Linked DNA regions of Homo sapiens: region 2 is linked to region 1. Evidence: fine-mapped expression QTL. Tissue or cell type: whole blood. Region 1 holds a variant in brackets; the other region holds the start of a gene. All regions are shown on one strand. Distances are from middle to middle.

The links. PIP is the estimated chance that this variant, and not a neighbour inherited with it, causes the effect.
Region 2: SYCE1 starts here. The variant in region 1 is fine-mapped to the expression of SYCE1 in whole blood (INTERVAL, PIP above 0.99).

The regions. Positions count from the first base shown.
Region 1 is chr10:133,591,414-133,600,016 of GRCh38, reverse strand. No RefSeq gene overlaps it. Among named protein-coding and RNA genes, the nearest start is that of SYCE1, 30 kb to the right of the region's middle. The variant T/G (reference allele first, on the strand shown) is at 1,875.
Region 2 is chr10:133,561,726-133,567,681 of GRCh38, reverse strand. It overlaps SYCE1 (synaptonemal complex central element protein 1), which reads left to right and starts at 2,099. Exons shown (of 13, transcript NM_001143764.3): 1 at 2,099-2,225. The coding sequence starts at 2,153. It also overlaps the pseudogene SPRNP1.

The DNA of each region.
Region 1 (8,603 bases):
CTTCCTCTTATCTCAACCGCAAAGAGGCCTTCCTCTTTTACTAATCCTCCTCAGCACAGACCCTTTACGGGTGTTGGGCTGGGGGACAGTAAGGTCTTTCCCTTCACATGAGGCCATATCTCAGGCTCGCTTGTACCTGGGAGGCAGAGATTGCAGTGAGCCAAGATCGCACCATTGCACTCCAGCCTGGGCAACAAGAGCGAAACTCCATCTCAAAAAAAAAAAAAAAAGTGATGGGGATATGTCAAAGGTAACTGAAAGATTTCCAAGTGGCAAAAAATTGAATTAATTTGAGCAACAAAATAATAAAATAGTACTGGATTATAACCAAAAATATGAAATAAATATTTGTGAGCCATGTAATCTAAGTAAATGATTGAATGAACAAATAAATATAAATAAATGGGGAGAAAAGACAAATCTTTTGAATTCCAAATAATTTGTGTTCTCTGCTCTCAGGAGGCAGAGACTGCAGTGAGCCAAGATCGTGCCATTGCACTCCAGCTTAAGCAACAAGAGTGAAATTCCGTCTCAAAAAAAAAAAAAAAGAAAACCGTCTAAGAGAGAGGGTTAGGGTTTGCCACCTGAGATCTCGCCCAGTAGTCTGTAACAGTGTGTCCATGTTGCTTCCAACATTCTCTTCATGATGATATGGTTATTCTCTGAGATGGTAGAGGCTTTCTCTATAGCTCTTGTCTTTTATTCATGAGCCCTCACCAGAATTGCCTTTAATGTCCATGTACCTACCAATAGTCCCTTCATGGAAATCTAGGCTTTTTCCACCAAGTATCTCAAAACTCATCCAGCCTCTGCTCACTGCCCAGTTCCAAAGCTGGTCCCTATCATTAGGTATGTTTCACAGCAGAACTCCAGTGTCAGTACCAAAATCTGCATTAGTCAGGGTTCTCCAGAGAAACAGAACCAATAGGGGTGTGTGTGTGTGTGTGTGTGTGTGTGTGTGTAAACATTTATTATAAGGAATTGGCTCATGCACTTATGGAGACTGACAAGCTGAAGACCCAAGAGAGCTGATGGTGTGGTTTGATCCACAGGCCTGAAAATCAGGTGAGCTAATGGTGGGGTTTCTACATGAAGGTCAGCAGGCCAAAGACCCAGGAGGAGCTGATATTTCTGTTCAAGTCTCAATGCAGGAAAACAACAATGTCCCAGCTCAAATGCAGGCAGGAGGAATTCCCTCTGATTTGGGAGAGGGTCCATTTTTGTTCTATTTAGACACTTGTCTGATTGGACAAGGCCCACCTTCAGTGGGGAGGGCAATCTGCTTCGCTCAGTCTATCAATTTAGATGTTAAGCTCATCCAAAAACACCCTCACAGAAACACTCAGAATAGTGTTTCACCAAGTATCTGGTACCCCATGGGCTGGTGAAATTGACACATGAAATTAACCATCGCAGCAGAACTGTCAGAAAGACGTTTTAAAAATAGTGATAACATCAAATGCTCACAAGGAGGTTGAGAATCACTAAGTCATTCATTCATTGCTGGTGGGAATGCAAAATGGTACAGCCATATTCACTCCGGAAAATAGTTCGGCTGTTCTTTTTAAAGCTAAAACTTGACTCACCCTATGACCCAGCTATTGCACAATTGAGCTTTTATTCCAATGAAATGAAAACTTGTTTTCATACAAAAACTCTACATAGCAGATTTATGCACAGTGCCCAGAAACTGGAAACTCCTTAAATGTCCTTCAATGGGCATAGGGGTAAATAAACTGTGGTACATCCTCATCATGCAATATTACTCAGCAATAAAAGGGAATAAACTGTTAATACATGTGACAATTTGAATGAACCTAAGGAAACTATGTTGAATGGGTGGGAGAGCCAATTTTAAAAGGATGCATACTTCA[T/G]GAATCCATTTAGATAACATTTTTAAATAACACAATCACAGAGATGGATAACATATTAGTGGTTTCCTTGGATTAGGTATGCAGCGGTGATGGAGCTGTGACTGTAGAGAGGTAGCATGAGGAGAGGTCTGATGATGATGATATAGTTAAACAACTTGATTGTCATGCTGATTATATGAAGCTATACATGTTAAAAATCACAAGTTATACCCACATATAGAATGCATGCATAAATAGCGAAACCTGAATAAGCTCCATGGATTGTATCAATGTTGATTTCCTGGTTTTCCATTGCACTATAGTTATACAAGATGCTAAGATTGGAGAAGGATAGGTAAAATGTGCCTGGGTATTCCCTGTATATTTCATTGCAACTTCCAATGACTCTACAATCTTCCAAAATACACTTTTTTAAAAAAAACAGAGGACCCAACTATATGCTGTCTAAAGACACCCACTTTAAGTATAATGACATACATCGAAATGTAAGAATAAAAAAAGATAAACCATGAGATACTAATAAAAAATGTGGGCTAGCTGTATTAAGTCAAATAAAGCAGAACTTAGAAAATATTAAAAGAGATAAAAAATATTACAAGAGATCAAAGAGGGCATTACATATAATAAAAAAGTCAATTTACCAAGAAGATATCATAATGCTTAAATGCATAGGCACCTATCATTAACAGAGTTTAAAAATACATGAAAAAAAAATCTGGCTGGGCGCAGTGGCTCACGCCTCTAATCCTAGAACTTTGGGAGGCCAAGGTGGGCAGATCGTTTGATGTTAGAAGTTCAATATCAGCCTGGCCAACAGGGTGAAACCCTGTCTCTACTAAAAATATAAAAATTAGCTGGGCATGGTGGTGCATGCCTGTAATCCCAGCTACTCAGGAGGCTGAGGCAGGAGAATCACTTGAACCCAGGAGGTGGAGGTTTCAGTGAGCCAAGATGGGTCCATTGCACTCCAGCCTGGGCCACACAGCAAGACTCTGTCTCAAAAAACAAAACAAAACAAAAAAAATCCAATAACTCAAAGGAGAAATATTCAAATCCACAATTATATTTGGAGAATTTAACAGTCCTGCCTCAGTAACCAATAGAACAAGCATATAGAGAAACAGCTAGAATATGGAAGACCTGACCAACACAATCACTCAATTGGACTTATTTGGTCAAATCATTCATTAAGAACATCAGACTATGCTTTCTTTCAAGTGTATATGAAACATTCACCAGTATAGAACATACTCTAGGTCACAAAACAAATCTTAACGGAAGTTCAAAAACAAATTTTTAGAAATAGAAATTGTATAAAGTGTATTCTCTGATCCTATCAGAATTAAACTTAATAACAGAAAGATGTCCGATGAATCCCTCAAATATTTGAAAATTAAACCACTCACCTCTAAATAATCCATGGGTCAAAAGTGAAACATAAGGGGAAATCAGAAAACCTTTTGAACTAAGTAAAAATGAAAATACAGCATATCAAAATGTGTGGGATACAGATAAAGCAGGATTAGAAAATTCATAGCATAAAATAATTATATTCAAAAACAAGAAAATTCTCAAATCAATCATTTAAGTTCTTCCTTTAAACAACTAGAAAAACAAGAGAAAGTAGAAGGAAGTAGATAATAAACATAAGAGGAGAGATCTGCAAAACTCAAAACAGTAGAATACAGAAAATTGATGAAACTGATAATCAGTTCTTAAGGAAGATCAATAAACTGGATAAACCTTTAGCCAGAATGTTGAACAGAAAAAAAAAAAGAGAGAAAACACAAGTTACCAACATCAGGAATTAAGGAGATGAAATCATTTCAGAGTCTATAGACACTTAAAGATAATAAGGAAATACTAGGAACAACTCTACGCCCATAAATTTGACAACTTGGAAGAAATAGACCAATTTCTTAAAAGACACAAACTACCAAAAGTCACAAAAGAAAAAACATATTTCCTGAATAGTCCTATAGCTATCACAAAATTTGAATTCTTAGCTAAAATCCCTCCAAAAATAAAAACTCCCAGCCGACATTGTTTCACTGGTTAATTCTAATCACATATTTAAGAAATACCAATTTTACACAATCTCGTCCAGAAAATATGAAGAGATACAATAATTCTTACCTCATTTTATGAGCCATCATTACTCTAATACTAAAACCAGACAAAAATATTACAAGAAAAAAATTACAAAAATTATCCCTGATGAACAAAGATGTAAGAATCTTTGACAAAATATTAGCAAATCAAGTCCAGTAGTATCTTAAGAAATAACACAAGAATGATGGCAACATTCTAAAACTGGATTGAGACAATAGATGCATAACTCAATAAATTTACTTTAAAAATCATTGAATTGGAAATGGATGAGTTTCATGGTATGTAACTTATATTGCAGTAAGTCTGTTTTTTAATAAATAAACAAGATGATACAATACTACCAAGTGGGAATTATCCCAGGAATGAAAGGCCATGCAACAATTGAAACTGAATCAATATAATGCACCACACTATCACTCTAAAAAAGAAAAGCCATGTGACCATCTCAAGAGATGTGGGGAAAGCATTTGACAAAGTTCACCAATTGACTTATGATAAAAAACCGTCAGCAACCTAGGAACAGAAGGGAAACTAACTTAATCTGACAAAGAGCAACTACAAAAATCTACAGCCAACATCCCACCTGATGGTGGAATATTGAATGCTTCCCACCTAAAATAAGGAACAAGGCAAGGATAGCCACTCTCATCTCTCGTTTTCAAAATTTTAATGGAAGTCCTAAACAGTACCAAAGAGAGAGAAAAAAATTAAAACTTACAGATTGGAAAGGAAGGAATAAAACATTTTATTCCCAGACCAAATAATTAAATAGGAAATCTCAAGGAATCTACAGAAAAACTCTTGGAATTAATAAGTGAATTCAGCAAGCTCACAGAATACAAGATCAAAACACAAAAAGCCATTTTATTTCTATATACTAGCAATGAACAATTGCTTTAAGTGCCACTTACAATAGCACTTAAAAATGAACTACTAAGGGATAACTCTAACAAGATATGTGCAAGATCTGTATGTGGAAATCTATAAAGCCCTGATAAAATAAATTTTAAAAATCCAAATAAATAAGATACACCAGGTTCATTGATTGGACAACTATGGAAGACACAGATAGTTAAGATGCTTATTGTCCCCAAACTTATCTGCAGGCATAATGTAATCCCAACCAAAATTCTAGTAGGGTTTTTCACAGATACCAATGAGCTGATTCTAAAATTTCTATGGAATGGCAAAGGAACTAGGATATTCTAAATAAATTTGAATAAGAATAGCAAAGTTAAAGAGCTCCCACTGCCTGAATTCAAGATTTACCATAAAACTGCAGCACTGAGACCTATCTATTGGTAAATGAATGAACATGTAAGTGAATGAAACATACAGAGTCCAGAAATAGACCCACACAACTATAGTATATTGATTTTCTTTAAGATGCAAAGGTGGTTCACTGGAAAAATGAGTCTTTTCAACAAATGGTGTTGGAGTTAATGCAAATAAATAAATAAAACTTGATTCATAAATCACATTTTATGCAAAAATTAACACACAAAAAAAATGATTGAACTTTTAGAAGAAAATACTAGAGAAATATCTGTGACCATGGATTAGGCAAACACTTGTTAGGTAAGACACCAAAACATAATCCATAAGAAAAAATTGACAAATTGTAGTATGTAATTTATATTGTAATAAATCTATTTTAAAATAAATAAATAAATGATATGTTATGACCAAGTGGGATTTATCCCAAGAATAAAAGGCTGTGCAACAATTAAAAATGAATCAAAAAAATCAGCCAGGCACAGTGGCTCACACTTGTAATCCCAGCACTTTGGGAGGCTGGGGCGGGCAGATCCCTTGAGACCAGGAGTTCGAGACCAGCCTGGCCAACATGGCAAAATCCCATCTCTACTAAAAATACAAAATTGGCTGGGTGTGGTGGCACATGCCTGTAATCCCAGCTACTCGGAGGCTGAGGCAGGAGAATAACTTGAACCAGGGAGGCATAGTTTGCAGTGGGTGGAGATCGCACCATTGCACTCCAGCCTGGGTGACCAAGTGAGACTCTGTCTCAAAAAAACAAAAAAAAAAAGGAAAGGAAAGAAAATGAATCCAAATTTACTTTATCAAAATCTAAAACTTTTGTTCTACAAAGGAAACTCTCAATGTAAATAAAAAGACAAACCAGCCGGGTGCAGTAGCTCATGCCTGTAATCCCAGCACTTTGGGAGGCCGAGGCAGGCAGATCATGAAGTCAGGAGTTCAAGACCAGCCTGACCAACATGGTGAAACCCCATCTCTACTAAAAATACAAAAAAATTAGCCAGGCACGGTGGCACACGCCTGTAATCCCAGCTATTCAGGAGGCTGAGACAGGAGAATCACCTGAACTCTGGAGGCAGAGGTTGCAGTGAGCCAAGGTCACGCCACTGCACTCCAGCCTGGGCAACAGAGTGAGACTCCATCTCAAAAAAAAAAAAAAAAAAAAAAGCAAACCACAGAGAGAAACATCTGGAAATTACACATCTGACAAAAGACTGCCTAAAGAACCCTCAACACTTAATGAGAAAACAAACCCAAAAGAAAAATGGGCAAAAAATTTAAACAGACACTTCACTGAAGAAGACACACAGACAGCAAATAAACACATGAAAAGATGTCCAACATTGTTAGCCTTTGGGGAAGTGCCAATTAAAACAACTACACATCTATTCAAATGCAAAACAAAAAAAACCCTGACGATATCAAGTGGTAACATGCACACAGAACAACCAGAACACTCATATATTAATGGTGGGAATGAAAAACTTGTCCAGCCACTGTGGAAAACAGCTTGGCAGTGTCTTCGAACATTAAAAGTCCACCACCATATGTCCCAAGAATCCCATACCTCAAGAGAAATGAAAACTTACATTCACAGAGAAACGTGTATGCAAATGTTTATAACAGCTTTATCCATAATCACCAAAAACTGAAAACACTCCAAATGTCCTTCACTGGTGAGTCAGTAAACAAAGGGCATGCATTTAATGGCGATTTTTCCATAATACATAAAAGGAGCCAGTCTCAAGAGGCTATGCGCAGAACAAGTCCATGTATGTGACTTCTGGCAAAGGCAAACTGCCAGGATGGAGAACAGAGCTGAGGCTGCCAGCGTGGCGGTGGGGGGCAGGCGGTGAGGTTGGTCTACATCTTGATTATGGGAATATTACACGACTCTGCAAGTGTCAAAAGTCCTACAACTGGACACCAAAAAGAGTGAATTTTACTGACTCTAAATTTTAAAAATATTTTTTAAATACTCAAAAAAGTTATTAACACAACTTTGTTAATGTTGGTTTTTATCTTCACTTTAGACAAATGGCACGGCTTCATGCTGTTCTCGGCTCTCTTTTCTGATCATGGACCAGTGTTTCTGTGGGTGGGAGCAGCTGGGTCCTTCTCTCGCTCTGCTAAGGTATCATGGGCACGGGTGGGAGTGAGTGGGTCCTTCTCTCCCTCTGCTCAGATGTCATGAGCACACATCCCCTGCCTCTGGCACCTGTACCACCTATAACCAAGCTTTTTCTGGCATCCTCTTTTTATTTGGCTTTCGTTGTGACATTTTTTCATCACTGAACATCTTTAGAGTTTTCCTCAAAGGTGCTGACATTTTTGTGGCTTTCAAAATTCTGAAATTAAGAAAATTATCATCCTCCACATAAGTTTATATTTTCTACTTACTTTTCTAATATTTTCTTTTCATATTTAGACATTTGATTCACGAGAGCCTTTTTTGCAGTAAGGTATAGGGTCGGAGTAGATTCTTCCAAATGTAAACCCACTAACAACAGTGTTTATCAACCTCCAGGCCTCTCCATCAGGCTTACGTTGTCATGGCAGAAATAACTGCTCACATTTCTAGTCTCTGTGCTCTGGGCTAATACTGTGCCAGGAACATGGAGAAGGCCACCAAGAAACTGGCTGGCTCACTCAGCCCAGCGTGGCAGCAGCAACTCCAGCATTTAATGCAGAACTGAGAGGCAAATAACTGCATCCAGGCAGGAAAGGTGCCTTTGCCAATTCTGGGTCCAGCTAGTTCTGGACTGACGTCTTGCACACTCACACACTCACACACACACACAGCAGGCAGGTATGTATCAGGCCTGGAGTCACCACCACTCCAGGGATGGTTTCCCTTGAGCCCTTGAGACCAGAGCCCTCTCAGAGCCACTGTTCCCTTCGCTGAGGTCTGCATCGCTGGGTCAGTAATCACCAGGAGAACCCCTAAACCCACTTTCCCTGGAGCTGTGGAGGTGCTGCAGAAAGATGTTACCAAAACGCCAAGGGTTTGGTCTAGGACCTGTTGCTCGCTGCACAGAAAGCCAGTCAGTGAGACAACGGGGACTGCCAGGAAAGAAGGGTTTAATCAGATGCTGCAGCCGAGGGGATGGGAGATCAGTGTCAAATCCATCTCCTCGACCAACTGAAATGAGGGGCTTATATAGCAGGGAAGAAATGTAATGATGTGTAAGAAAACAGGAATTAACGGAAGGGTGAGGAAGAGGAGTCAGTCAGCAGGCAGCCAGTGGTCAGTTAGACAATCATGAGGGGCGAGGGGCCCAGAGTCTCACTGTCCAAGTGCAGTGATCTGGGGAATTTCAGCTTCTTGATGCTATCCAG
Region 2 (5,956 bases), 31 kb after region 1:
ACAGGGAGGTGACCTCAGGCTGGTTCTGCCACTGAGGCCCTGAGGAATCAGGCCCTCCCCAAAAGAAGTAATGAAATGGACCAAAGGACTTAAGAATTTGGGGGGAAGTAAGGGGAAAACGTTAGGTGCTAACCACCTGCCCAGAAGAGTGGATCTCACAGCCCAGGAACATTCCCAAGCAGGAAAACCATCCGTCCAGGAACCCTAACCCTAAAACTAAGCACAACCCCTACCCCTAACCCCTGACCCTAACGCTGACCCTTAACCATAACCCTTAACCCTAACCACTAACGCAAAACACTAACCCTTAACCCTAACCCCTAACACCTAACCCCCACCTCAAGCACTAAACCCTAAGCCTAAACCTTAACCCTAACTGCTAACACTAACCCATAACCCTAAGCCCTAGCCCCAACCCTAAACTTGACCCTGAACCCAAGCCTCCAACCCAACCCCGACACAAACCCCTAACCCTAACCCCTAATTCTAGCCCTAATCCCTAAATCCAACACCAACCCTTGACCGGACCCCTGACCCCTAACCCTAACCTCAACTCATAACCTCAACCCCTACTCCTACACCTAACCCCTACCCTAATGCTAGCCATAAACCTAACACCCAAACCCAAACTCGAACCTATGCCTACCCCTAAAACCCTAGCCCGAACCGTAACCACAAATCCTAACACACAACGCTACCCCTAAACCTACCACTACCCCACCCCAAACCCTGACACCGAACCCTGAAGCTAACCCTAACAACACTAAGCCTAACCTGCAACCCTTAACCCAACTGTAACTCCTAATGCTAACCCTAACCCTAACCCTAACAACACTAAGCCTAACCCCTAACCCTTAACCCAACTGTAACTCCTAATGCTAACCCTAACCCTTAACTCTAACCCCTTACCCTAAACTGTAACCCCTAACCCTAATCCCAACCCCAACACGTAACCCTAACCCCTATCCCCTACCCTAAAACCCTAACCCTTACAAACCTTAGCCAAATCCCAAACCCTAACCCCCACCCCTGACCCTAATCCCCTAGCCCCCAAACCCTAACCCCAATACCCTAACCCCAACACTAAAACCCTGACCCTAACCGTAAAACCCTACCCCTACCCCGACCCTAGCCCAACCCTAACCCTACCCCAATCCTTCCCCTACCCCTAACACTAACCCCAAACCCTAATTCTAACCCCACTCCTAACCCCAAAACTAACTTCTAACCCCTAAACCCTAACCCCAACCCCAACTCTAACCTTAATCCCTAGCTCTAATCTGTAGCCCTAACCCTAAACCCTAAGGTAACCTTTTATAGGTTAGGATTCGAGGCTTCGTATTTAGGACAGGCAGGTGTTCTGATGTCTCCCACTCACCTGCACGGTAAAGTTCTTCCCCTGGCTCTTCACAACCAGTCGCGATGCATCGCGGCCTCCCCTGGCCGGTGAAGGGCTGGGTTCTCCCGAAAGCCTCTGCTCCTCCTCCCTCCTCCCAGGGCCCTCCGGGCCTCCACGGTGGCCCCAGCGCGGCAGGGACCGTGCAGAAGGGACCGTGGGCTTGTGGCCGGCCTCGGCCACTGTGGGCATGGAGCTCACGGGAACGCGGCCTAGGGGCAGGCTACGCTCCTCTGCGCGCGCAGGAACAGCGGGCCCAGCGGGGGCTGCCGCAGATTTCACTCGCTGGGGCCCGTGCACTCCCGCGGCGGTGTGGTCCCGCAGAGCCGCAACCTCATGAGGCTGCCAGGGCCACAGCGCCTTGTGGAGTCGTCATCCGTCAGACACGCACACTTCACAGGAAGCTTCGGCGCTACACATGCGTACTGCTCGTTGGTGGGGAGGGCCTCCAGAACCAGGGCCGGTCCCCTCGGAAGCCAGCGCACATGCGCGGGGGCACCCGGCAGCGGGCCAATCGCAAGCCTGGACGGCCGCACGTGGCCCTGGCGGGCTTCCCGCCGCGTTTGTAGCCCTCGCGCCTTTACGCATGCGCACTAGTGCCACGCAGGCCTGCCGGAGAATTACCTCACATCTCCAGGCGCGCGCAGGAGTGCATTGCGCAGGCGCGCTGCCTGGAGTCCTGCCCCCAGCGGCGGTTGCTCCAATCACCACTGGAGGCTCCCTCCCGAGGCACCCTCGCTGGCGAGCTGAGAGGAAATGGCGGGGAGGTCCCTGACATCGAAGGCCGAGCCCACCGCAGGAGCCGTGGACAGGGCTGAGAAGGCCGGAGGTAGTGGTGGGAGGCAGGGAACTGTGCGTGAGGGTCTGACCTCGCCGAGGCGGGGCAGGGTTGGGGCGCGGGTGGCGGCTGCTTCTTCCTGTCAGTCCTGATGCTGCTGATTGAGACTTAGCGGGTTTCTTCAGAAAAATTTCGGCCAAGATGAGGGAGTGCTTGCCCGCACACCCCCCACTTTGTCTTAAAGCATTGAACTGTTATCATAGTTGCTCCAATTTTGGTTTAGGTAATTAGTCAAAAGACATCCCTTCCCGTTGTCCCACAGACTTTACATACACACCTCTTAAAACAAAAAGGATATTTTCCTGACGCTCCCAATCCCAAGGGAATTCCTAATTCCACCTTCCTCTCCCTAGAACCAGCAAGTGTCCAGATTTCCCAGTCGCACTAAACTGGTTCTTGACAGTGGGGCCCCCCACCCAGCATCCCGACGCCCCGGGGAGCCGGGGGAGGCCGACTCCACGCAGATCCCCCGTTTGTTTCTCCCTGACCCCGACCTGCCATAGTGGCTCCTACCTCACCCTGGGAAGGGAGGGGACAGGCAGCTGGTCAGAGTTGTACAGAAGTCCAGAAATTGCAGCCCAACAAAGAGAAAGGACACTGTCCTGGCCGTTTCCACTTCAGGACACTGTGTGCCTCTGGGTGTTCTGTGAGGATTTTCAAACTTACAGAAAAGTGGAGAGAATTGTACGGTGACGTCCCTCCTGCTGTCACTCAGCTTGTCATTCTGTCCTGAGATCATCTGTCCCCCTTGAGTTAAAACTCTGCAATTAACAAACGTCGGTGGCTGCCTCCAGCCCTACCTGCGTGAATGCCATGGCAGGTGCTCTGTCATGTTCTTACAAAATGAAGGTTTGAATACTGAAACAAGCTTAGCACAGAAAGCATCCCTACAGTGAGATGTGGCACAGTGAAAGCCCCAGCGAAGGACAAAGCAAGTAAACAGGACAGACGCAAACGTATCCCTTTCATTAAGCACCTGCTGGCCCGCCGGTGTGCTAGCCTTTCAGTATCATGGCTCCATGTTCCTCACATAACCTAGTATATTTAGGTAAGTTTTAACCAATGTCGCTTGTGCCTTAGTTCAAACTGCTACAACAGAAATGCCTTATTTCTCACAGTTTTCGAGGCTAGAAGTTCAAGATCAAGGTGCAATTCAGCGTCTGGTGGGGGCCTGCTTCCTGGCTATAGACTTCTGTCTTCTCATTGTGTCCTCATGTTGGGGAAGTTGCTGCAGACCTCTCTGGTCTTATAAGGGCACTAATCCCATTGCTGAGGGCCCTACTCTCATGACCTAATCACCTCCCAAAGGCCCCACCTCCTAATGCAGTCACACTAGGGGGTTAGGATTTCAACATACGAACTATGGATGGGGGCACAAACATTCTATAGTGACCAGCTACAGAAGAAATTTAAAGGACAAGATTCCAGTTTTAGTCTATCTGTTTTAAAAAGGAAGCAGGGATGTTATCTAGGGTCAGTGACACTAGATACATTTTAGTAAAAAGTCTATTAGTCTTCACCTAACTGGCTGCAGTTATTACTAGAAAGGGGAATGACTGGGGAAAGGGAATGTTGGTGTTTCAATTTTTTCTTCATACTTTTTCACACATGCCAATTACTTGAATAATTTAAAACTTAATGCAAAAATTTATGAGCAGTAATTTGTGTAAGATTTCAGGTGGGACCAAAATGAGGGGACTCCATAAACTCAAAAATAAGCATTTCACAAAATTTTATGCTTGATTTTTTTTTTTTTTTGAGACGAGATTGTGCTTTGTTGCCCAGGCTGGAGTGCAGTGGTACAATCACTGCTCACTGCAGCCTTGACCTCCTGGCCTCAAGAGATTCTCCCACCTCAGCCTCTTGAGTAGCTGGAATCACAGGTACATGTCACCATGCCCAGATAATTTTTTTAAATTTTTTATTTGTAGAGAGAGGGTCTTGCTGCATTGCTCAGGCTGCTCTTGAACTCCTATGCTTGAGCAGTCCTCCTGCCTCAGTCTCCCAAAAGTGCTGGGATTATGGATGTGAACCACTGAGCCTGGCCTTATGCATGTATGCATGATTTTTAATGGCTGTAAATGATTTCATCCTGTGTATGTGCTATAATTTATTTAACAAATCCCCTAAGGCATATTTAGGCTTCTTCGAGTTTTTCACTATTATAAACAATACAGTGATGAACACCTTGCCCATTAGCCATATCCAGAATTACTTAGGACATAGTCTTAGAAAATAAGATGCACCCAAACTTTTGATATTTACTATCAGAAAGTTTGTAAGGAGACACCTTAATTTTGCATATCTGGTTGACAAAGATAAACACGTTTGGAAACATAGGTGATTGGTAAAAATGAAAAACTGGGCATCTTGTATACATCAGTGTAAGGTAATTTGGTATTGTCAATCAAAACTGTTACAAACTTTGGTCAGGTGCCTCTGAGCCTTCTCAACCGTGCCTCGGCCTTGGCCTTGGCCTGTGATATGGTTTGGATCTGTGTCCTCACCCAAATATGTTGAATTGTAATCCCCAATGTTGGAGTTGGGGCCTGGTGGGAGGTGGTTGGATCACAGGAGACCAATTTTATTTAGATAGTGACTACCTATCTTTTAACTGGATCTCTGAGCTCTGGGAAGAGGCCACACTGAATCCTGGGTCTGCAAAAAGGGAGAATTATTATGAGGCTCGACCACATGGATGCTTTTACAGTGTACTTAAAAAACATTAAAAAAATATTTCTAAGTGTCTAAAATATACTCTTCCTTAAAAATGCAGGAGTAGCTTCTGTTGCAATAATTAATAAACAAAAAAATCAGGTAACACAATACAAAAGCAAACAGTTTAGGAGCTGACATGAACTTGTGTGTTTACACTCTTGGGGATACACAAGGAAAAACAATTTTCTCCACAAAAGGGAGTCTGGTGCCTTCTCCATTTTCTTTAAGGAACCTCAGGCTATTATAAACTATTTTAGGTCCCTCATGCAGCAGAGCGTTCAAGGGAAAGGAGAGACAGCAGAACTATATGAAGAAAATAGCATTCAGTCAACTGAAAAGAAAAAAAACTTTTGCCCAAAAAACACAAGGTCCTAGGAGAGAGAAAAAAGAAAAATCATGAAGCCCTTTTAAATACACACACACACACACACACACACACACACACACACACACACACACACACACACATTGGATGTTAGCTTTTAATTAAGATGACTTTTAACCATTTGAGTTTCTTTTTAAAAAATTTTTAAGATCTCATCAACATATTTCAGCTAGGACAAATATCTGCTATTTCAGAAGTACCAAGTATCAAACCAGAAAGGTCTTGATTTAGGAACCAAACCCAGGCTGTCATGGAAAAAAGAAGACAGAACCTTAGCTATGGAACTGCAGTTGGGGTGACAATCCTTTCTCTTTCAGTTTGGCCTGGCTAGCAAAAAGGTGGCCTTGTTATGTAAATAAATCCCCTTAAGTAGTCAAAATCAAAAATCTTCCCCCCCTTTTTTCCTTTTGCTGGCTGTTTTTTCTTCCCCCACCACCCCTTTTCTGGTGGGAATTTAGCCACTTCAGAGGCCTTGTTCCACATAATTTGGAACTTTCCTTTGGATTTGATCAAGTCAGAATTGGCCAAACCCAATAGGAAAAGGACCAAAACAACAAAAACAGAAAGAAACAACAACAAAAAAAAATACCAGTTAAGCAAAACAAACAAATGATCACAC